3 separate regions of the Homo sapiens genome follow, and all the other regions are linked to region 1. Evidence: fine-mapped expression QTL. A gene starts in region 1. Each other region holds a variant in brackets. All regions are shown on one strand. Distances are from middle to middle. Region 1 holds the start of SELENOW (selenoprotein W). Region 2 overlaps NOP53 (NOP53 ribosome biogenesis factor). Region 3 overlaps NAPA (NSF attachment protein alpha).

Evidence for each region.
Region 2: its variant is fine-mapped to the expression of SELENOW in whole blood (INTERVAL, PIP above 0.99).
Region 3: its variant is fine-mapped to the expression of SELENOW in whole blood (INTERVAL, PIP above 0.99).

Annotation. Positions count from the first base shown.
Region 1 is chr19:47,773,941-47,782,140 of GRCh38, reverse strand. It overlaps SELENOW (selenoprotein W), which reads right to left and starts at 3,438. Exons shown (of 6, transcript NM_003009.4): 1 at 3,327-3,438; 2 at 1,392-1,416; 3 at 1,224-1,277; 4 at 959-1,033; 5 at 753-851. The coding sequence starts at 3,355. The coding sequence ends at 771. RefSeq lists an enhancer at 488-1,073 and silencers at 3,141-3,280, 3,291-3,550.
Region 2 is chr19:47,747,147-47,755,239 of GRCh38, reverse strand. NOP53 (NOP53 ribosome biogenesis factor) reads right to left here. Exons shown (of 13, transcript NM_015710.5): 3 at 4,954-5,062; 4 at 4,133-4,332; 5 at 3,650-3,720; 6 at 2,633-2,728; 7 at 609-713; 8 at 349-531. Among named protein-coding and RNA genes, the nearest start is that of SNORD23, 4.7 kb to the left of the region's middle. The variant C/G (reference allele first, on the strand shown) is at 4,885.
Region 3 is chr19:47,492,103-47,500,302 of GRCh38, reverse strand. NAPA (NSF attachment protein alpha) reads left to right here. Exons shown (of 11, transcript NM_003827.4): 4 at 4,707-4,753; 5 at 6,810-6,887; 6 at 7,129-7,184; 7 at 7,258-7,342; 8 at 8,184-8,200. It overlaps NAPA-AS1 (NAPA antisense RNA 1), which reads right to left. Exons shown (of 4, transcript NR_038452.1): 2 at 6,702-6,856; 3 at 5,159-5,275. Among named protein-coding and RNA genes, the nearest start is that of NAPA-AS1, 12 kb to the right of the region's middle. The variant C/T (reference allele first, on the strand shown) is at 4,341.

The DNA.
Region 1 (8,200 bases):
CTTGGCCGGACGCTGTCACATGACCTGCTGGGTTGGGAACTGTTTCTTGGCAATGGGACAAAGACCTAGAGTTCCGGATTCTGAACCGTTGGGTTGCTAGCACTTTTCATTCCCAAACCAGGAGAGCTGTTTTAGGGCAGCCCTCTGACCCCACCACCAACTCAGCTGTCATCTTGCATACCCCATCTCAGCTGTCATCCTGCATACCTCTGACCCTATCTCAGCTGTCATCCTGCACACCTCTGACCCCATCTCAGCTGTCATCCTGCACATCTCTGACCCATCACCATCTCAGCCGTCATCCTGCACACCTCTGACCCATCACCATCTCAGCCATCATCCTGCACACCTCTGACTCATCAGCATCTCAGCCGTCATCCTGCACACCTCTGACCCATCACCATCTCAGCCGTCATCCTGCATACCTTTGACCCATCACCATCTCAGCTGTCATCCTGCACACCTCTGACCCATCACCATCTCAGCTGTCATCCTGCATACCTTTGACCCCATCTCAGCTGTCATCCTGCATATCTCTGACCCATCACCATCTCAGCTGTCACCCTGCACACCTCTGACCCCATCTCAGTTGTTGTCCTCCACCAACCGGGTCTAACTTTATCCCGCTCGCTCTGGGGACACACGTGATGTCCCCCCCATCTCCCAGGCTCTCCACCCTGGGCCAAGGAGTCAGAGCATGGGGCAGGGAGAAGATCCAAAGGGTGGTGTCCCTGTCTAGTGGGCCCCCTCACCTCTGCCTTCAGGGCGCATTAGCCCTGAGCCAAGGCGGCTTTGATGGCGGCCACCAACTTCAGAAACTTGCTTTCTGTGTCCACGTAGCCATCGCCTTTCTAGGGAGGGGAGGAAGAGGGAAGGGGTGAGCTGGGACCGAGACACCAACCTCAGCCCCAACCCCATGCTAGCCCCAAAACCAGGCAGGACGGACAGACAGACATACCTTCTTAGAGTGAATCAACTTCCCGGCTACCATCACTTCAAAGAACCCGGTGGCCTGGGGAGTTCCCTCGCCGCACTGAGGAAAGGGGGTAGGGGAGATGTTGGAGGGGCTAAGATGTCCTCTTGGGGAGACCCTCCCCTTCCCAGGGGGATGAGAACATGGGTGAAGGGCGTAGGGCTGACCTAACCCCCCTGCAGTGCCATCCAGGCCTAACGGACCGACACAGTGGCTGTGCTCAAGTCTTTCTCCCCATCCCAAGACTCACGATGTCCAGGCGGCCGGGGAACTCATCTTCTAACTTCTTCTTGAGCTGAAGATACTGAAAACGCGGTGAGAGGTCACAGCAGGGGTCATACCAGTCAGCCCCCTCCCAATATGCACTCTACCCCTCCCCAGCTCCCAGGAATGCCCCCCGGGCATCCACTCTGCTTACCTTGGACTTGTAGCCTCAAGCGCCACTGGTAGGAGAGTCCAAGACATTGGGGCCCAGGGGAGAGAGGGAGAAGTGGGGGATCGGGGAGAGGAGGGTAGACACAGGCGGTGTGGGGAGAGAGCAAGATGGGGCCAGGAAGAAATAAAGAGGAACACAGATGACCAAGCAGAAGAGGTGACAGATGCCCTCAAGAGAGAAGACAGGCACCAGCCAGGCAGAGTTTTGGGACACAGCACAGGGGGTGGCGCGGGGACACACAGAGACACACAGAAAACCAACACCAAGCAAGAGACAGAGAAGGGGGAGGGGAAAAAGGGGAGAGAGGAGACAAGGAGACCACAAATACGAGAGACGGGGACGGGGGAAAACCAGGAGAACTGGATTAGGAGAAGAACAGCACACGTAAGGTCCCCACCCACTCCCTGTGCCCACCACCCTCACCCACAGCCCTCGCAGCACTCCAAGGAAAACCCTGCGGCTCCTGGATTCTTACACCACGCCCAGCTAATTTTTGTATTTTCACCATGTTGGCCAGGCTGGTCTCGAACTCCTAACCTCAGGGGATCGGCCCGCCCCAGCCTCCCAAAGTGCTGAGATTACAGGCAGGAGCCACCGCACCCGGCCCCGCAGCTCCTAGATTCTGAACACCTTCCCAGTCCCCAGGGTGAAATACAGGCTCACCCAACCCCCACAGCAGGCTATTTCGGGACTGGAATCTGGTGTACAGGCCTGGTAGGCGTCTCAAAATGTCACTCTTGCCTCTGCTTTGTCGAGCAGGCAGAGACGTTGGAAAGCTGCCGACAAACCCAGGTTCCAGTTACCCCTGTCACCTGCAGTCCAGACTTGAAGCTACTGACCTGCCCCCACCCCAGTCCCAGCCTCAGTTTTCTCACCTGTAACATAGAACTAAAATTCCTCTCTTTAATTTACTTTTTTTTTTTGAGACAGAGTCTCGCTCTGCTGTCCAGGATGGAGTGCAGTGGCACGATTTCAGCTCACTGCAACTTCCGCCTTCCGGGCTCCAGTGATCCTCCTGCCTCAGCCTCCCAAGCAGCTGCGACTACAGGAGTGCGCCACCATGCCCGGCTAACTTTTTAAGTTTCTGTAGAGACGAGGGGGGGGTCTCCCTGGGTTGCCCAGGCTGGTCTCGAACTCTTGGGCTCAAGCGATCCACCCGCCTCAGCCTCCCAGTGTTTGGATTACAGGCGTGATCAACGGCACCTGGCCTAAAATTCCCCTCTCTTAAGGGATTCCTGGGAGGATAAATTCATTGAACACGTATTTATTAAATACCTACAGCATGCCACACAGTATTAGGTGCTGGGGAGTGGAGAGAACGTAATTTATATCCTATCCTATTATACCCTTCCTGAGACTTGCAGAAATTAAGCGTGTTCGGTATTGACACAGAGCCTCCCTCTTGCCACAGACGGAAAACTGAGGCCAGAAAAGGAGTGGGGTTCGTGGCCAAGGGAACCCACTGGGCAGAGGCCAACAATTCAAGTGCTTCTGAAACACAGGCTGAGACATTCTCGAACCTTCTGGGCTCTCACTGTCCCCACCCCGCGACTGTTCGGGATATTGGGGGAGGGGAAGCCTTAGGGTGGAGGAGCCTTAGGTCCCTTTACAAAGCTGACCCCCAGCCCCTTCCCCAGCGGAGCCCCGGAGTCGGGGGTTCGAAATTGACACACACTCGTCTCAGCCCCACCTTTTATAACCCGAGATGCCCAGCGTGTCACAAGTCGAAGACGGGGCCTAGGGACGACCGCCCTCTGTTTTTCGCCCCTCCGTACGCCCACCCCACCCACATACAGGGGCTCCCTTTTCCCATACAAGGGCTCCCATGGGTCCTCTCCCCGGGGCTCCCTGACCCCGGCTCCGAGAATCGGGTCCCGGCGGGGGTCGGGGACGGGGGCCGCTGGCCGCTGGGCTTACCAATAAACGACTCGGACGGCGAGAGCCATGGCTCGGGGCTGCCACATCCGCTGAGGAGCGGACGCCCGGGCCACACTAACCTCCCACCTGGACGCGCTAGGTCTGCGCGAGTGCGGCGGGAACCTGCGCAGAAAGGATGGAGCCTCGGCTTCCCCTGGCGCCAACCAATGCCAGGGAGGGGCGGTGGGCGGTGGGCGGAGAGGCGCCAAGGCGGAGGATAAGGAACCCGCGACCCGCCAGCCCGAGGCCCCCACACAAGTCTCCTTCCCATCCTCCTGTTGGGCTGGAGAGAGTCTCGATACAGGCAGTCCCCGGGGGAAGCCCTCCGCGCGTCCCCTCCCAGGTCCCCCCGGCCAGAATGGTACGGCCCACGGGGGCGGTGATTTACGGCTGGCCGCTCCCAGCTGGACCCGGAATCAGCCTCAAGGGTGGTCTTTTCACTGCGTGGGCTTGGGGACGGCGCGGTGGGGACAGAAGCAGGGCGCGATTCTTGAGTCCCTCACCTCCCCTGGAGAGGGCGAGGGGGCGAGAGGGGAAGGATTCGGGGTAGACCAGGTGAGGGAGGAGACAGGGAGTTGAGGGGGAGGTTTTCAGGGAGCGGTCCAGGGCCCACAGTTGCCTTATAAAGACCTGCAGCCGCAGGGCGCGGTGGCTCACGCCTGTAACCCCAGCGCTTTGGGAGGCAGAGGCAGGAATTCAAGACCAGCCTGGGCAACATAGCCAGACTGCGTCTCTACAGAATAATAATAATAATACATTAGTGGCTGGGTGCGTTGGCTCACGCCTGTAATCCCAACACTTTGGAAGGCCGAGGCGGGCGGATCACTTGAGGTCAGGAGTTCAAGACCAGCCTGGCCAACATGGAGGAACCCCGTCTCTATTAAAAATACAAAAATTAGATGGGCGTGGTGGCGCGTGCCTGTAGTCCCAGCTACTCGGAAGGCTGAGGCAGGAGAATTACTTGAACCTGGGAGGCGGAGGTTGCAGTGAGCCAAGATCAGGCCAATGCACTCCAGCCTGGGTGACAGAGCGAGGCTCCACCTCAAATAAATAAATAGATAATAAATCAGCCGGGCGTGGTGGTGTGTGCCTACAGTCCCAGGCTACTTGAGAGGCTTAGGCAGGAGGCTCGCTTGAGCGCAGGAGTTTGGAAGCTGCTGTGAGCCGTGATTGCACCACTGCACTCCAGCTTAGGCCACCAAGCAAGACCCTCTCTAAAAAAACAAAAGGCCTGCTGCGGCTGGGCACGGTGGCACATACCTGTAATCCCAATGCTTTGGGAGGCCGAGGCAGGAGGACTGCTTGAGCCCAAGAGTCTGAGACCAGCTGGGGCAACATAGCAAGACCCCATCTCTACAAAAACTTTTAAAATTAGTCCGTGTGGTGGCATGTACCTGTACTCCCAGTTACTGGGGAGGCTGAGGTGGAAGGATCACTTTAGCCCAGGAGTTTGGGGCTGCAGTGAGCCGTGATTGTGCCACTGCCACCCCAGCCTGGACAACAGAGTAAGACACTGTCTCGAAAAAAGAAAGAAAGGAAAAGGCCTGGCCAGGCACAGTGGGTCACACCTGAAATCCCAGCACTTTGGGAGGCCAGGGTGGGTGGATCACCTGAAGTCAGGAGTTCGAGACCAGCCTGGACAACATGGCAAAACCCCGTCGCTACTAAAAATATGAAAATTAGCCAGGCGTGGTGGCGCATGCCTGTAGTCCCAGCTCTTCGGGAGGCTGAGGCAGGAGAATCACTTGAACCCAGGAGGTACAGGTTGCAGTGAGCCAAGATCACGCCATTGCACTCCTGTTTGGGCGACAAGAGCAAAACTCAACTCCATCTCAAAAAAAAAAAAAAAAGGAAAAGGAAAAGGCCTACTGCCGGACCTGGCACAGCCTGGTCATTCATTACAGAACAATAGTCACTCCCCATGAACCCTCTCCGTGCAGAGGGGATCGTCATGGAAAGTGCTAGAAACAGGCAGTTGAGTTGAGGAGTGAGGGTGCAGGGGCTTATCTCTGAGCCTGTTTCTCCATTTGGAAGTTGGGTGTAATTGCCTACAGGAAATGTTCACTCATTTAACAAATAGGTACTTCATAACCACCTGCAGTCCCAGTTTCCAGGGATACAGCAATGAATAAATAAACAAAGTCCCTTCCTTCATGGGAGTGATCTGGCAGGTAGAGACAAAGGGCAGGAAACAACATGAAAACAGCACTTCCATTAGATGGTTGATGTGAGCAGTAAGCGAGTTTATACAGGTAGGAAGAACTAGAGCTCTGACTGGCACACGGGGATAACTCAATAAACTCAGCCTGATGAGGTGGCTCACACCTGTAATCCCAGCACTTTGGGAGGCCGAGGCAGGCAGATCACCTGAGCTCAGGAGTTCAAGACCAGCCTGGCCATCATGGTGAAACCCTGTCTCTACTAAAAATACAAAAATTATCCCAATGTGGTGGTGCACGCCTGTAATCCCAGCTACTTGGGAGGCTGAGGCAGGAGAATCACTTGAACCCAGGAGACAGAAGGCAGTGAGCTGAGATTGCACCACTGCGCTCCAGCCTGGGCGACAGAGCGAGACTGTATCAAAAAAAAAAAAAAAAAAAAAAAAAGGTTAACTCTATCTGGGATTTCCCTGTCCCCAGATCCCCTAGTCTTTACCTCTTAGAACCCTAAGCAAAGTTCAAGTCGACTCCACCCACCTCAGTCTGATCCCCCTGATCTTGGGAGGATTTAATGAGCAAGTGCATGTAAAGCAACACAGGGCTGGGCAAAAAGTGAATGACCCACAAATAGAGCTATCTTCTGTGACTCCCAGAGCCCTCAACAAAAACTCAAACCTCTGCCTGGGCAACATAGTGAGACCCCATCTCTATAAATACAAATTATATATATAGATATGTATATACACAAAAATATATATACAAAATAAATATATACATACCATATATATTTTTTTGTTTGTTTGTTTGTTTGTTTTTTGAGACGGAGTCTCACTCTGTTGCCCAGGCTGGAGTGCAGTGGCACAATCTCGGCTCACTGCAACCTCTGCCTCCCAGGTTCAAGCAATTCTCCTGCCTCAGCCTCCCAAGCTGGAGCTACAGGCATGCGCCACCATGCCCAGCTAATTTTTGTATTTTTAGTAGAGACAGGCTTTCATCATGTTGGCCACACTGGTCTCCAACTCCAGACCTCAAGTGATCTGCTCACCTCGGCCTCCCAAAGTGCTGGAATTACAGGCTTTGAGAACCGGGCCCGGCCCCAGCCAATTTTTTAAAATATTTTGTAGAGACAAGGTCTTGCTATGTTGTCCAGGCTGCTCTCAAACTCCTGGGCTTAAGTGATGTTCCTGTCTCGGCCTCCCCAAGAGCAGAGATTACAGGCATGAGCTACCTCTCCAGGCTCAAATTTCCGAATTTTTTAAGGACACCAGTCATGATGGTTTAGGGACCATCCTACTCCAGTATGACCCCAACTGATTATATCTGCAACGACCCTACTTCCAGGTAAGGTCACATTCTAAAGTACGGTGGGTTAAGACTTCAATATGCCAATTTTGGGAGTGGACCCAATTCAACCCATAACAACATCATTCAGGCTGGGCGCGGTGGCTCACGCCTGTAATCCCAGCACTTTGGGAGGCCAAGGTGGGTGGATCACGAGGTCAGGAGTTCGAGACCAGCCTGGCCAACATGGTGAATCCTCGTCTCTACTGAAAATACAAAAATTAGCCAGGCATGGTAGCGGGCACCTGTAGTCCCAGTTACTCCGGAGGCTGAGGCCGGAGAACGGCGTCAGCCCGGGAGGTGGAGCCTGCAGTGAGCAGAGATCGCGCCACTGCATTCTAGCCTGGGTGACAGAGCGAGACTCCGTCTCAAAAAAAAAAAAAAAAAAAATAGAGATGGAGCCAGGCGTGGTGGCTCACGCCTGTAATCCCAGCACTTCAGAAGGCCAAGGCGGGCAAATCACTCGAGGCCAGGAGTTCAAGACCAGCCTGGTAACATGGCAAAACCCCATCTCTACTAAAACTAAAAAAAAAAAAAAAAAAAAAAAATTAGCCGGACCTAGTGGTGCATGTCTGTTGTCCCAGCTACTCAGGAGGCTGAGGCTCGAGAATCGCTTGAACCCAGGAGGCAGAGGTTGCAGTGAGCTGAGATCATGCCACTGCACTCCAGCCTGGGTGACAGAGGGAGACTCCATCTCAAGAAAAAATGAAAACTAAAAATAAATAAAAATAAGAATAGATATGAGGTCTCACTATGTTGCCCAGGCTGGTCTCAAACTCTTGGGCTCATGCAACCCTCCTACCTCGGCCTCCCAGAATGCTGATTACAGGCACGAGCCATCATGTCCGCCCCATGTGTTCATTTTTAGATCTGTAGGACAGTCATGGTTTTCCCTTTTTTCCCATAATTATCTTGTAACAACATTATCCTCAAGAAGGCCCTCTCTAAGCCCCTGGCTCCTCCATCGCTGGCCAAGCCACTGTGGTTGTCACAGGTCCCGTGCCCTCACTGATGTCCTCAGCACACTCTGCAAGTGGCCGGGCTCAATGCAAAAGCTCACAGGACCTTTTGTTGACCAGGCTCAGGGCTGAGAACTTGCCAGGGGCCTCAAGAGAGAAGGGACATCACTGCCTCTGCCACTGTGAACAAAAGGGCCTCTGTTGCCCAGAAGTGGGGGATGCTGGAGGAATTAGTAATGACTTCTGGGCTGGGAGGCCATCCCCCTCCCCTTTTCTCTCTCTTTCACACACACAAACACACACATGACAAATGGTAACACACAAGTGATCTCCTTCACCCATTTACACAATTGCACATCCAGACAAACCCAACCCAGAGACACAACACATCAAACACCTTTATTCAGCCACACAG
Region 2 (8,093 bases), 27 kb after region 1:
CCTTCCTAACCCCGTCACATCAGCGGCCCCTCCAGTGCCTTCCCAGCAGCTGTTTGCTGAAGCCCCTTTTGTCATCCATCTCCCCTGGTCTGCGGTGCAGAAACCTCCCCCCACCCCGCCCCTCAAACAGAAGCGCCAGGGACCCTGTCCCACCCCAGCCCGAGCCCTGCCTGGAAGAGGCTGGGAAATGAGTCTCAGCTGTGAGGATCCCAAACAGCCCAAACCACAGGCCACATGCGGGGCTTGGGGTGTGCAGGCTGCCCGCAGCACCCAGGGCAGCCCATGGTGGGAGGAAGGAAGGAAGGGGGCGAGGCATCAGAGGCAGGCCCCGCTGGCCCAGGCGCTCACCAGCCTGTGCACAGCCTTCTCCCGCCGCCGCTGCTGCTCCGTCTTCTTCTCTGTGGTGGCCAGGCGGGCGGGCGTGGGACAGACCTCGGCATCCCCAGCCTCCGGCCCCTCGCCCTGGCCTGGCTCCCCCTCACCATCCGACTCCTCCAGCAGCCCCTCGCACAGCTCCTGGAATGTGGACTCCTGGGGAGGCGGGGTGCAGTGTCAGGGGTGGGTAGGAGGCCCGGGGAGGGGAGGGAGTGGGCAGGTGCGGGGCTCACCTGGGTGGCGGCCTGCTCCGTGGCGGGCAGGGCCAGCTGCCGCTCCAGCTTCTCCGCCTCCTTCTGCCGCTGCAACTCCACCTCGTGGGCCGCTGAGAGCAGGGTCTGAGGGGCGGGAGTGAGGATGGGTCCCTGAACCCCTCCTGGGACACTGAGACTAGACCCTCTTACCTCCCATCTGTCCCTCATCCAGTGCCCGTGGATCCCGCCCCGGCCCAGGCTTTCCTCCCCACACCCCGTCTACCAGCACACCCACCCTGCACAGAGCCAGAGGGCACCTCAAACCCTCGCCCTCACACCTGCTCTGCACGTCTGTGAAGGCAGTCTGACCTGCACGCTTCACATTTTTTTTTTGAGATAGAGTTTCTGTCTTGTTGCCCAGACTGGAGTGCAATGGTGTGATCTCAGCTCACCACAACCCCCGCCTCCTGGGTTCAAGCGATTCTCCTGCCTCAGCCTCCCGAGTAGCTACTATTACAGGCATGTGCCACCATACCCGGCTAATTCTGTAACTTTAGTAGAGATGGGGTTTCTCCATGTTGGTCAGGCTGGTCTTGAACTCCTGACCTCAGGTGGTCCACCTACCTCGGCCTCCCAAAGTGCTGGGATTACAGGTGTGAGCCACCATGCCCGGCCCACAGTTTCATCTATGTGAATTGGTCAGGGTGGGCTGGTCCCTGAGACAGGAAGCCTGGCAGCCCAAGACCACACGAGACAGGGAATTGCGGGGGTGATGGCTGACATGTGTGAGGTTTCCTTTACGGACAGTGAAAATGTTCTAAAATTGACTGCGGGGATGGTTACACAATGGTCACTAAAAGCCACTGAATCACATACTCTAACTAGGCTGACCGTATGGTTAAGTGAATTTTATCTCTACGAAGTAGTTCTGTACAAATCTAAAAGTGAATGTCTGATCTCCACGCCCCCTCCCACATCTGGTCCAGGAACAGATGGCAGTGAGCGGCACCCTCACGCTTTCAACCATGAGCACACTGTTGCTTTTTTCCGCAGACACTTTTCTCTACCAGATGAGGAAGCTGCCTCTGTTCCTGGCTAGCTATCTCCTTCTTATGAATGCTGAAAACGATTCGGACAAGCGGTCCTGCATCTACCGCAAACATCTCAGCATCTCTCCAGTCACGTGACCCCATGAGAAGGGCTGTTCCTTGAGGGAGGGTTGTGCTTGTTTTTTGAGTCTCGCTCTGTTACACAGGCTGCAGTGCCGTGGTGCGATCATAGCTCACTGCAGCCTGGACCTCCTGGGCTCAAGCAATCCTCCCACCTCAGCCTCCCAAGCAGTTGGGACCACAGATGCGTGCTGCCATGCCCTGCTAATTTTCTGTATTTAGTAGAGACAGGGTTTCACCATGTTGGTCAGGCTGGTCTCCAACTCCTGACCTCCAATGATCTGCCCGCCTCAGCCTCCCAAAGTGCTGGGATTACAGGTGTGAGGCACCGCACCCGGCCAAGGGAGGGGTTTTTGTCCCCTTTGTCCACAGCATCTGTGCTCAACAGATGCCCGCTAAATGCACAGTGGCTCCAGCTAGACTTTCCCATCGCTGAGCTAGCCTCGCCCATATATAACTGTCACTTGGCTGCCAGTGTGCCACCGTGTCACCACAGCCTTTTTCATCTCTGCCCCACAGGCTTCCTGGAAGGCGCCACGGTCTCTCTCAACTCTGTGCCTTTGCAGTGCTGTTCCCACCACCTGGAAAACCCACTCCCCTCCTCCCACTGCAAACCCCTCCCTCAGCCTCTGCCTCGGCTCAGGCGACCCCTCCTCCCGGGAGCCCTTCCTGACCCCCCAGGCTGGGCCAGGTGCCCCGTCTGGGCTCCCAGCCCCAACCACTCTGCCCATCACTGTCTGGGAACAGGTCTCTTGCACTGGACCGTGAGCCCCGTTGCGGACAGGCCCAGGGCTGTCTGGGTCATTGGAGTTCCCAGCACAGGGAGGAAGCTAGTGAAGGCCTGACCAAGAGGCAGAGCCCACTGAGGAGGGAGGCCTGGACGGGGCAGTGTACCTGGTGGTCTTCAAAGGATGGATTGTAGGAAGCTCCGGCAGGCGCCACCTCCACGGCGGGTGCCTGGGACGGCTTGGTGTGCAGGCGTGCTGGCCGCTGTGGAGAAAAGGCCGAGGCAGGGTAAGGCCGTGCGTTGGGGCTGCGGGTGACCCAGGACACAGCCATGGGGCAGATGCTCCAGGCCTTGCCAGTGGTTGGGTGTGGGAAGAGCTCAAGGGGCATTCAGGTGACTCCAGAGCAAGACTCCATCTCAGAAAAAGGATAGCAGCCTATCCTCTGCTACCCACGAGGCTGAGCCCCGGAGATTGTAAGCACCTGGGCTCTAACACTTGGGGTCCAGCAGCTCAAGAAGGAGGCTGCAAATCCAAACTCAAACCCGTGACACTTCTGCCACTTGCCAGCACGGGCTCCACCTTCTCATGTGCTACCTCTTTACATTCTCCCCACCGACCCATGATCTAAGTACAATTTCATCTGTATTTTATTTTATTTTTTTTTTTGAGACAGAGTTTCGCTCTTGTTGCCCAGGCTGGAGTGCAGTGGCATGATCTCGGCTCACTGCCACCTCCACCTCCCTGGTCCAAGCGATTCTCCTGCCTCAGCCTCCCTAATAGCTGGGACTACAGGCACGTGCCACCAAGCCCAGCTAATTTTTTTTTTGTATTTTTAGTAGAGACAGGGTTTCACCACGTTGGTCAGGCTGGTCTCAAACTCCCGACCTCAGGTGATCCACCTGTCTCGGCCTCCCGAAGTGCTGGGATTACAGGCGTGAGCCACCATGCCCGGCCCTCATCTGCATTTTAGAGGAAGATATAGGTTGCAGAAAGGTGAGACCACCTTCCCAGGATCAGTCAGCACTGGAGCTGGGACAGGAATCCCAGCCACCTGGCTCCAGCACAGAGTTCTCGGCCACTGGGATGGAAGGGCTCTGAGACAGACTCTACTGCAGGAACACAGAGCAGCTCCCGGCCCTCCTCACCCTCCCATCACCCAGGATGCCCTTCCCACACATCTCACCTTCACTCCTTTCTTCTTGGTCTGCTCCAGGAAAAACTCATCCTGGCCAACCAACGGCCTGTCCAGGGGGTCTGTGGATACAGCGAGGGGAGCTGCTGGGACAGTCCCAGCATGGAAGAGGCACCAAAGGCTCCCCCCCAATCCCTCCACATTTCAAAAAGGTGACCCTGAAGCTCAGGCAAGGGAAGGACTGATTCTAGACCCCAAGGGCCTTGATCACCAGGACAAAACTGTGTCTGGACGGGTTCAGAAAGTGGAAGAGACCAAAGCTGAAGGCTTCCTTTCCTGAAGCCTCACAACTCAGGAAAGGAAAAGCACGAGTGGGAAACGGCCGCCCCTTCAGGACGCACGACTCTGCTGGGAGGTCACCAAAGCACCCACAAAGCACTCCCTTTCACACTGTACTCTCGTGCAGTGCACAACACACACAAACTGCACATGGCCGTCCTGTCCCCATTCATAGGTGACAGCAGGATCACTCACTGTCTGAGGCCCAGAGGTCGTAGAAGGGCCGCTCTACGGTGTCCTGGGGCCCGGGCTTGGCCCTTGTTGCAGAAGGGTTGAGGAGCCGGGCCTGGGCCCTGCGCACCTCCCGGGGCAGCTCGCCCTGCTTGGCCAGCTTCTCCCATAGCTGCTCCTTCCGCCTGAGCTTCTTGGCGTTGGGGACCTGGTGGGCGAGGACGCTGGTCGGGGAGAGGGGGCACAAGTGCAGCAGGTGAGGTGGCAGCCTGAACGGCAGCAGGGCCTCCTCCCCGTCGGGCTTCCTCCACCATTAAGGCAGCTTCAGCACCCCCTCTCCAAAAGGTGGCACTCCGCCCCCTCTTCAGAGAACTCCTCTCCCCACGTCTGTCTCCAGCCTAGGCCTCCCCTCTGAGCCCCAGACTCAACGAAGCAACAGCCCCGTCCTGGACATACCCCAGGCACCTCACACCACCACGTCAAAACCAACCTCAGCATCACCCGAAATCCCACTCCTCCACATCCCCATCTCAGGGGAAGGCCAGCTGTCCACCCTCTCACCCGCTCATGCCCCAAGACCCACCTGATGTGCCTCCTGAACACGCCTCCCACTCAGCCCCTCCTCTCCAACCCCGAAGCCCCCAGCTGGGTCCAGGCCCCTCCTCACCTGCCTCGGCCCAGCACCAGGGCACCCAGACTCCCTCCCTCTAATCTGCACTCCGAAGCCCAAACCTGAGCCTGCCCTACCCTTCAAATGACCCTCACCTACCAGCCCC[C/G]AGCCCCGGAAACCCTTTAGGACCAGAGTCTGGTGGGAAAGAAGGGCCCAGGGATGCTGGGACACTCACTCTTTGGGGGCAGGGACTTTGGATGTGTTCTCGAGGATGAGGTCAACCCGAAGGGGTTTCTTGAGAAGCAGTGACTTCTTCTGGACTTTGGTTCTCTTCTTTGTCAGCCCTAAGAATGGGAAAGAGAACAAGTCAAGGCCTCAGCCCTACCCACTGCCAAAGACCACCCACCCTATTCACCTCCATGGGAGCCATCAGACCTGAATCCCAAGTCACCCCAGGAGACTTGGAGGTCCCCAGGCTCCTACCTGGAGGTAGAGGCCCCTAAGGATGGGGCCCAAGGTGCCCAAGCTCTGACCCTCCACAACCAAGTGCTGGGCCAGCAGGAGGCAGGCCCCATGCTGGGGACACGAAGAGTCACGCCCACAGCCACATAGGAGGGTCTTCCAGACAAACAGGGAACCTCTTCCCTGCATGGTGGCTCACGCCTGTAATCCCAGCACTCTGGGAGGCTGAGGTGGGAGGATCGCTTGAGCCCAGGAGTTTGATGCCAGCCTGAGCAACATAGTGAGATCTCATCTCAGGGGGAAAAAAAAAAGGAAGAAAGCAAGTCATCAGTTGACACTGAAGCCCAGGGAGGGCCACAGAAGTGGACTTGGGACCCAGGATGGCCACTTCTCAGCATAACTTCTAGTTCTCTGGTTTTTACTGTCTTTTTCCTCCCACAAAGATACCTGTGGTTTTTACTTCAAAAGCCTAACAGTTAAAAGCAGTAACTCTACAGCAAAACACTCTAGAATGGAATAACACCCTTGCATGGACTGTGGGACCTCACACAAGAGGCTTAGCTCCTCCGTGCCCCCAAAATGAGGATGTGGATACCTCCCTCACTAGGCCGTTATGAAGATGTAATCATTTAAGGCCCACAAAGCACAGGGGCTGACCTGGTTGACTGCTCACAACCACTATGATCTTTGTCCGTGTTTCCTTACTAAAGTGGAACCCATAAACTGCCTCTTTCCTGCCCCCCAAAGAGGCTTCCCACTCGCCAAAGCACGCCGGTAACTACTTTCCCATCTGTTCATTACGGGCAGGTCACTGACTTACCCTTTACACTCACACACCAGATCAACTCACTTCGGTCAAGGCTGACTTCTCTAATAACCCCCCACTTTTTTTTTTTTTTGAGACAGAGTCTTGTAACCCAGGCTGGAGCGGAGTGCAATGATGCGCTCTTGGCTCACTGCAACCTCTGCCTCCCAGGTTCAAGCAACAATCCTGCCTCAGCCTCCTGAGTAGCTGGAATTACAGGCATGCGCCACCACGCTCGGCTAATTTTGTACTCTTAGTAAAGACGGGGTTTCTCCATGTTGGTCAGGCTGGTCTCAAACTCCCGACCTCAGGTGATCCACCCGCATCAGCCTCCCAAAGTGCTGGGATTACAGGCGTGAGCCACCACGCCCAGCTTGAGACAGAGTCTTGCTCTGTCGCCCAGGCTGGAGTGCAGTGGTATGATCTTGGCTCACTGCAACCTCTGCCTCCCGGGTTCAAGCGCTTCTCAGTAGCTGGGATTACATGCGTGTACCATGACGTCCGGCTAGTTTTTGTATTTTTAGTAGAGACGGGGTTTCGCCATGCTGCCCAGGCTGGTCTCCAACCCCTGACCTCAAGTGATCCGCCCCACCTCGGCCTCCCAAAGCGCTGGGCTTACAGGTGTAGGCCACTGCACCCAGACTCTAATAACCACTTTTTACCTGCCTATTGGAAGTCTCCTGTACCTCAGGGCAGCTCCTTCCACTCTATCTGGTCACTGAACCAGGTCCGCTCATTTTCATTAAAACATACCCTTTGACTGATCTCACACAAGCTCACTCTCTTGCTCATTAAAGCAGACCCCTTCGCTTGCTTCCAGGCTGTTCATTAGAGCAGATCATCTGTTCTTAGTTTGTTTTTCTACATATTGAAGTAAACACTATTACTCACCAGAGCAATCCCTCCCTCACGCCTCATCTTGTTTCAGCAGATCCCCACCCTACATTCTAGCAACTTAAGGCAAGCAAGTTAAGACGTGTGTTACCCGCTCACTAAAGCAAGTCCTCTTATTCCTATTAAAGCTCATCTTGGCCAGGCGCAGCGGCTCACGCCTATAACCCCAGCACTTTGGGAGGCCAAGGCGGGTGGATCACCTGAGGTCAGGAGTTTGAGACCAGCCTAGCTGACATGATGAAGACCCATCTCTACTAAAAATACAGAAATTAGCCAGGCTTGACCAGGCGTGGTGGCTCATGCCTGTAATCCCAGCACTTTGGGAGGCCGAGGCGGGCGGATCACCTGAGGTCAGGAGTTCGAGACCAGCCTGACCAACATAGAGAAACCCCATCTCTACTAAAAATACAAAATTAGCCGGGCATGGTGGCACATGCCTGTAACCCCAGCTACTCAGGAGGCTGAGGCAGGAGAATCGCTTGAACCTGGGAGGTGGAGGTTGCGGTGAGCTGAGATCACGCCATTGCACTCCAGCCTGGGCTTGAAACTCCATCTCAAAAAAAAAAAAAAAAAAAAAAAAAGAGAGAGAGAAAAGAAAAGAAATTAGCCAGGCTTGATGGTGCAGCCTGCAGTCCCAGCTACTTGGGAGGCTGAGGCAGGAGAATCGCTTGAACTGAGATCACACCACTGTACTCCAGCCTGGATGACAGCGCAACACTGTCTCAAAAAAATAATAGTAATCCCAGGCTGGAGTTCAGCGGCGCGATCTCGGCTCACTGCAACCTCCACCTCCCAGGTTCAAGTGATTCTCCTGCCTCAGCCTCCCAAGTAGCTGGGATTACAGGTGCCCGCCACCACAACTGGCTAATTTTTGTATTTTTAGCAGAGACGGGGTTTCACCATCTTGGCCAGGCTGGTCTCGAACTCCTGACCTCAGGTGATCTGCCTGCCTGAGCCTCCCAAAGTACTGGGAATACAGGCGTGACTCACCGCAACCGGCAGGACTGAGTTAAGCAGGTCCTTGACTTGCTTTTCTGCAAGCTAAAAAGAGATCCTTTAATGTGTTTCTAACTTATTCATCAAGGCAGACTCCCAGCAGCTTATCTGTGCATGGAGATCACTGACATCTCAAAAGAAAAACCTGCCTTCTCTAAGTTCGTCTCCAGCTTGCTTTCTGCCCATTTGAGGTCCCCTTGTTTATATTAAGGTTGACC
Region 3 (8,200 bases), 280 kb after region 1:
TTCTGTTGTCAGAATTAACATGCAGAAGGGAGCGGTGTGGGGGGCGGGGAGGATTCTGAGACCAGCCAGGTAGGAGTTGCTGCCGAAAAAGGAGCGGAAATTAGCCCAACCTGGCTTCCCTACATCCTGGGGAGGAATTAGAGAGAACAGAGCCCGAGATGTAGTTGCCAGAGAACAAATTACTTAAAATGAGAGCGTGCTAGGGACAGAAACCCAGTTTGGGGCTGACTCATGGTGAGAAAACAGTTTTGTCCCCCTGGGTGCCTCCCGAAGAGGAGGTCCAGCCCAGTGTTTGCTTGCATGTGGCGGGAATTTTAATTTATTTTTTAAAATGTTGGTGCCAGGTACAGGTTGCTAATTAGAAAGCACAGGCAGTTTTTAAAAATGACCATCTATTGTCACTGTCATCTCAGGGGAATGGAAAATATATGAATCTTTAAAAAATAAAAAGCAGCTATATAATCTTGGAATAAAAGCCTGTCCTTCCCAAGAGAAGACAGGTTTGCAGCAGTGCAGGGAGCTTCCTCCATGGATCAGTGAGCACTGGTTCACATGGCGTGTTTGAGAACTGCTGGCATACCCCTTTGTCGTGATCTGACGTGTTAGTTCCCAGATGAGGATGAATTTGTGTTGACCAGTAGCTCTTCTCTGTCCTTAGACTGACCAGTTGCTCCTCAGCAGCTGGGCATCTCATGCGTTGGCCTCAGTGGTCACATGGTGGGGCTCAGGCCTGGCAAGAGGCCGAGGAGCAGCCTTGTAACTGGGTGGGCCATGGGGCTTGCCTGGCTGGTAGCACTGGGCCACAGCAGGCTGCGTGGTTGATGCAGTGATGACCCAGGGAGACCCTGGGTTGGTTTTAAGCTTGATTCACCACATGGAGTCTCCATGCCTTCCATTAAACTGCCCCGCCAAGCCTTTCCTTCTGCTCCCTGGGAAACTGGTTGGCCTAGAGGTGCTGTCTTAGCATCTGTGACGTTCAGCTGCTGCCCCATCTGGAGTGACTGGAAGGACACTCTGGGGCAACACTGAGCGCCAGGCTGCCGAACAGAGAGTGCCATTTGCTCTTTCAGCAGACCCCTCACTTCCTGCAGACAGGCCCTGCCTGGCAGTGGGATATGGTGGGGTCCCTCCCCTGCGTTTGATCTGAGCTTTTCTAGCTCTCCAGCGAGACTCTGCAGGGTGTGGGCCTGGAGTCTGGATGTGGCCCCTCCCTGGCCTTAGGAAGCTCAGAAGGTGGCTGAGGACTCCGACCGGTAGGAAAGTATAAAGATGATGTTACATCCAGGGCACAGAGGCCAACTTGCACAGAGCTGAGGCTGGGGGCGTGAATTTGGCTATGGGAGATCTTTCAAGGAAGAAAGGGGGCAGTTCTGAAAGGAGAGCCTCACCTGGGTAGAGCTGAGAGCAGGTGCCGTGTCCAGAGCCCTGGGGACGTGGTGTTGAGCAGGGAAGGGTGTTAGTGCAGCTTCCAGAGCTACAGCCTAAAGATACGCACGCCAGCCATGACTCCCAGTGGGGCAAGGGGCACATTGGCATCAAGGGCAGTGGCTGCTTTGTGTCTGAGGCTAGTCAGGCCTCACACAAGGCCAGGTGCAGTGGCTCATGCCTGTAATTTCAGTGCTTTGGGAGGCTGAGGCAGGAGGATCGCTCAAGCCCAGGAGTTCAAGACCAGTCTGGACAACATAGTGAGATCCTGTCCCCAAAAAAAAGCCTCACAGAGAATGTCATGTAGCAACTGTGTGTGGCTCAGCAGCGCAGGTGGTGGGTGGTCTGGGAGGACCCTGCCTCCCCTGTGATCCTGGGCAAGTCAGTCTTTTGGGCCTCTGTTTCCTCGTCTGTTAAAGCAGAGACTGCTGTGAGATGATGCAGTCATGCCCAGCGCGGCACCTGGTGTGTGATAAACTTCCAGTCAGGACACCCTTGGCTTTCATCAGTCCAGGGGCCCCTGCCTGCCCTGGGCTCCCCACAGCCTCTGCCCTTGGCCGGGTGCCTTGTGAGACAGCGCTGGAGGCCCGATTTGGAACCTTGCCTGGCTTCCCCAAGCAGGTGGCCGGTACCCTGGGGCCGTCCTCATCACTGGTCTCCTCAGCAGCCTAGAAGGCCTCTGTCTTGGGTCAGCACTTCTAGGGCTTCCTCCAGGACTCCCTCCAGAAGGACCTGCCCCCAAGTGGCAGCTGGAGTGTGCCTGAGGCCCGACTGGGCTCCCGAATTCCTCTCCCTCTCGCAGAGGGTGGCCTGCTGCCACCTTGGTGGCTCTGGGTGGGGAAGGGTGATGCTCATATGTGTTATTGGTTCCTCAGTTACCCAACCATGGCTGCTGCTCAGGGCAGACTCGGGCCAGCGAGGCCTCTTCCCAGGCCTGCCTGATAGTTGGGGGTGGGGGCAGTGTGTGTACCTGGGGCAGAGAAGCGACCTGGCCCCTGCTTGTCCCCCACTTCCTCCCCAGCTGCCATTTACTGGGTTTCTACTGTGTACCAGATGCTTGGCATCTTTTAACCCATTTGATTTCTTTGTGCATTCTGTGATTTGCCCCCATTTTACTAAGGAGGAGATGACCAAGTGTAACCAGGAAGGGCTTCAGAGACGCAGAAGTCAGGTTGGGCGTCGCTGGTAGGAGTGACTGCGGGGATGGGCGGTGGCCTGGGCCATAGCTCCCCAACTTGGGCTGTATTGCTCTGAGCCCCTTTCCAGCCCTCTGTGGGTGGGTACAGGAGGGGCCAGGCCACAGAACTGGGTGTTGCTCTGCCTGTCCGAGTGCACAAGGCCTGGTGACCTGAGATAAGAGTAGCAGTCATGAGTGTGTCAGAAGCTCGTCCAGGAGCCAGCTGTCCCAGGTGTCTGCTGGTGGCCCGCCGCTTTCCAGACATGGAGGGGACTTAACCCCGTGAGTCCATGTTGCTGCCTGGGGGGTAAGCTGTCTCCCTGCTGCTACTGCAAGGACTGTGCCATGCTGACGGCGGGTGCTCCAGAGCCAGTGCCAGCAGGCCCAGGTGGCAGCTGCAGATCTCACTGCTCACTGCGGAGCAGCAGCCTTTGCCGCCTCAGCCCACAGGGTGCCAGGTTGGTGTCCTGGGTGTTCCGGCCAGGAGAGTGAACCAGTGAGCAGCCCGGGGCCTCCATGTGGAGACTGCAGCCAGGTGGGGCGGGGCAAGGCGGGCCTCTCACCTCACTCCAGCTGCTGCTCTCCTCTGCAGCGTGGCCCGGCTTAGCCGTTGCTTCTGGGTCCGCCGATTACAGGATGTATGTGTCTTCAAACTGCCGGATTTAGGTTGTGTTCTCTCCCCTTCCTCCTCATCTGCCCCCTTTTTGCCACCGTTTCCACTGTCTGCTGCCACAGTCTCGGTCTGTCAGCCCTAGAACCTGGACTGAGTGCTGTACCTTCTCTCAGTCCCTTTTAGATCCCCAGAGGTCTTTCTGAATTGGACAAAACCTACAGACCCCACTCCCCAGAGGAGTGCTTATGGACCCCACTGTTTACATGTCAGAAGGAGGGGTTGGACTCCCTGAAAGCCCAGCCACAGACCTGAGACAAAGAGCCTCTGTCCAGATGCCTCCCCACGGAGGGAGTTTGGAGTCCCATCCAGACCGTGAGCCCCTTGAGAGGAGCCCAGCCCCGGCGCTTCTTGGTAGCACCCTCTTCTCAGGCGAACATGGCCTGGGTGACCATGGAGACCCCCACGGTGACCAGGAACTTTCAGATGCCCAGGCTGAAGCTCAGAGCCCATGCCCTGTGGCCTGTCCAAGCTCCCTGCCTTTCCCTCTCCCCAACCCAGGCCTCCCTCCCCACAACACCCCTGTCCTCCTGAGATGTGCTAAAATGGTGTTCTTAAAAAATACCCCCTGAGAGCTCATTTCTGTCTGCTAGAAAATGCCTCCCACTCATGCTTTTCTCTCTCCTCCAAATAACTTGTCAAAAAAAAGCCTTTCCCAAATTTAAAATCTTGCAAGAGATAGTACAACAAAGGTAGCCCAGTTCTTCCTCAGTGCCATCCTGGTGTGTTCAGGTTTTTTGGCAAAACCTTTGAGGAGCTGGTGGGTGGCAGGACTAGGTTAAAGGGACTGAGCAGAGGGCTCCCGACTGCTGAGCTACGAGGAAGAGGGGGCAGTGGAGAGCACACTGAGGGCTCAGTGTTGATGACATCCAGCCTCCTCGTGCCAGAGGTCCAGGTCCTCCTGGTGCAGGAGCAGAAGCTGCTCAGGATCCTGCAGAGATGGTGGCAGAGCCCAGGTAGAACCTGGCACCCTGTTGCCTCCAAGACCACCTCAGATGCTGGTTTGGCCGCCTCCCATGCCTCCTTCCCCTTTGCCAGCAGCTCAGTCCTTCAAGAGCAGGGCCTTGG[C/T]AGGTCTGTCTTAAAACACCGTGGGAGTCTGGCCATCATCCTGGCCTAGCACTGCTGTGCCCTGTCCCTGGGGTTGTGGGAAGCTGGTAGCATCCTGGCAGCCCGAGGAGAGAAGGGCTCCCCCAGAAGCATGTGCCCAGCAAGTCACAGTCTGCAGAGTCAGCCCTCTCACCAGATTTCCTGGGGCTCAGGGATTCCGTCCCCTTCTTCCCAGCCCCTTGAGAGTGTGTGGCAGCGCTGGCAGCTCTGAGCGCCTATTGATCTCTCTGCTGGCAGCCAGGTGCGCCTGCGTCCGCCTCCTCTCCTCAGCTTCTGCTGAAACGACTTCACTTTCTCATGTCTCCTCCCACCTCCCTTTCTCTCCAGAGGCCATTAACTGTTTGATGCGAGCAATCGAGATCTACACAGACATGGTAAGGGCTGCTTGCTTGTCCTGACACCCCCGGGTCCCACTGCATTGCCCCAGCCTTGCGTCCCCTCTTTCAGCACCCCCAGCACTGTTCTTATTCTGCGGCCAAACCACTTGGGGAGGGGGAAGTGGGAGCTGGGGGGATTAGGTCACCTGAGCTGGCCTGGGCTGGCTGGGTCTTCACCCAGCTCCCCACCAGCCTGACGGCCCCCTCACTCCACAGGCAGTCATGGTTTTCATTCATAGAACTTAGGTTATTGAGCTGGGCAGGGTGGCTCATGCCTGTAATCCTGGCATGTTGGGAGGCTGAGGTGGGAGGATCTTTTGGGCACAGGAGTTCGAGACCAGCCTGGGCAACATAGCAAGACCTCCTCTCTACAACAAATTAGCCTGGTGTAGTGGCATGCACCTGGGGTCCTAGTTCTTGGGAGGTTGAGGCAGGAAAATCGCTTGAGTCCAGGAAGTTGAGGCTGCAGTGAGCTGTGATCACACCACTGCACTCCAGCGTAGGCGACAAAACAAGACCCTGTCTCAAAACAAAAAAAGAAATTAGGTTACTGGAGAGTGTGTGTCCGGCACTTCCCCTTGCCCAGCCTTCCCGCAAGTGTCACATTTGATAAGCATCTTGCAGCAGGCCACAGGGATAGGCAGAGCCCACAGGAGGCTCAGCACCTGCCCTGCCCCCAGGGCGCGTTGCCAACGACAGATGCAGACCAGATGGGCAGCTGCCAACTGGAGCCAGAGTGAAGGGTCCCACCCAGGCCGGGGCTCCTGTCAGTGCTTTCTCTCTCTCTCTTTTTTTTTTTTTTTTTTTTTTTGAGACAGAGTTTCTCTCTCATCTAGGCTGGAGTTCAGTGGCGTGATCTCCACTCACTGCAACCTCTGCCTCCCAGGTTCAAGCGATTCTCGTGCCCTAGCCTCTCGAGTAGCTGGGATTACAGGCGTGTGCTACCATGCCTGGCTAATTTTTGTATTTTCAGTAGAGATGTGGTTTCACCATGTTGGCCAGGCTGGTCTCAGACTCCTGACCTCAAGTGATCCACCTGCCTTGGCCTCCCAAAGTGCTGGGATTGCAGGCATGAGCCACCGTGCCTGGCCAGCTCCTTTTTGCCTCTCCGCTTGCCCTGTCTGTCTCAGCCCTCCAACCCCAGGCAGGGACACGAGCCCTACCCCTTGCGTTCAGGGCAGTGCTGCAGGGATGACTGTGATTAGAACAATAATAGCAGCTGCCATTTATTAGGCCAGACACTGCAGGGTGGTTTAATCCACAGCCCTGTGAGGTTGGCATTATTGTCATCCCCGTTCCTTAGTGGAGGAGAGGGGCTCAGACAAGTGACATGATTTGCCCAGGGACATGTGGCTACAAGCAGGAGTCACTGAGACCCGAAACAAGGTCTGGCTGAGCCCAGGGCCTTGCCCTTTCCTACTGCCCTCAGCAAGGGGGTGGCGTTGGACCAGCCCCTGGTGCAGAGCAGTTAGGCAAGCGCCTGGACACTGGGTGGAGGCGGATGGAAGGTGCGAGGCCCCTTGGAACCTGAGGCCTCCCTGGGGAGCTCTGGGTGTGCCTGGGGGAGGCTGACAGATAGGTGTTGGCCTGGGGGCAGAGCTGGTACTCTTGGGCAGAGGTCTCAAGCCCTCCCTCCCATCCTGGTTTCTCCAGAGCCCTTTGCCAAGTGGCTCTGGACTGGTCCTTCCGCCTCTCTGGCTGTTATCAGAGGCTTCCTAAGGGCCAGGGCCTTGGCCAAGTGCTCGTGCTCACATTCTCTCTGGTGTCACACCATCTGTGCCCTCGTGGATGGGATGGAATTAGGCTAAGGCCCTGGAGTGGCTTGTCCAACATCACCCGCTCAGCCCAGCACGCATAGCCAGGCCTCTAGTGCTGGGGCCCTCCCTTCTCACTCCTGTGTTCCCCCACCTCTCGATCTTCTTCACACCTCAGGTCTTCTTCATACCTCCTCACAGGCGTGGCTGAGGGGTGGGAACTTGAAGGGTCATAGGTCAGCAGGCAGGCACGCAGGAGGTCATGAGTCGCAGGCAGCCCCTTCCTGTGTCCCCTCCAGGGCCGATTCACGATTGCGGCCAAGCACCACATCTCCATTGCTGAGATCTATGAGACAGAGTTGGTGGACATCGAGAAGGTGAGTGGCAGCAGGGCCCTGCATGGGCTGGCAGCCAGGACCAGTGCTGCTCTCTCTTCTTCCCACCAGGGGAGTCCTCTGGTGTCTGAGTGCCGAGAAGGGGGCATGGGGCGCCGGCAGAGCTTGGAGAATGGGGTCTGGCTGTGTCCCAGGCAGGCAGGGCGGAGGGTGTGGAAGCTTCACGGAGGCCTCCTCTCCCTTCCCTGCCCTCCCCTGGAACCCATCCCCCGTGTCTCCCCAGGCCATTGCCCACTACGAGCAGTCTGCAGACTACTACAAAGGCGAGGAGTCCAACAGGTAGCCCCCTTCCTGCCTGCCCCAGCCCCGCAGGGACCGCCACCACTTCCCCTCACTACTCCTCCCCACACAGCTCAGCCAACAAGTGTCTGCTGAAGGTGGCTGGTTACGCTGCGCTGCTGGAGCAGTATCAGAAGGCCATTGACATCTACGAACAGGTGGGGACAGGTGGGGATGGCGGCTTCCACCCTGCCCCCTCTCAGGGCCTGTGCCTCCTCCTAAGCCCCGGCACCTTGTTCTGGAACCACCCCTCCCCCGGCTCACCCTCTGCCTCTCCCCCGACATCCCTTGCCATGTCATCCCCCCACCCTGTCTTCAGCCTGGCTGAATGTTCTCCACCTACGACTCCATGCCGTGCCAGCACCGTCTCTCTCCCTGGCTGTGCCCCTCCCACACCCCTCGCAGAGCTTCCTGGAGGGGCCCAGAGTGAGGCTGGCTAAAGAACCCAGAGGGAGGGAATGGGAAGAAGTGCCAAGAGGCCCAGGGTGGCCGTGGGCACCCCACCCCATGGCCCGATGGTCCTCATCCACAGTGGGAGGGAGGGAGTGTCACATGGGGTCCCCCCAGCGTGCACGGAGCCCTGGGTGATGGCCGAGAAAAAGGCAGGCAGCTGGCCCCCTGGGAGAGAGGGGCGGGCGCCGCCTCTCATGTTCCCACCGCCTGCCGCCGCTCTGCCCACCGCCATGCCAGCCTCCCGTTGGTCCTGACAGCCAGGCTGCCTCCTTCCCACTGTCTCAGGCTCTCAGAAGGCCCACGAACACCTGGCTACAGCCTCCACCCCCACCCAGCCACCATCACACCCTGATCTTGGTCGCTCACGCACTGGCCGCTGACCTCTCCAAGCTGGTCCCTGGCTCCCTGCCCTTGGGGTCCTGGGTTAACAGGGCCTCACCTCGGGACATGAACCAGCTCCCAGCTGGCCCCCCAGTGCCTGGCAGTGGCTCTGGCCCTCTGGCTGCTTGCCCTGAGCTCACCAGTGCCACTTCTCCATGGCTACAGGTGGGGACCAATGCCAT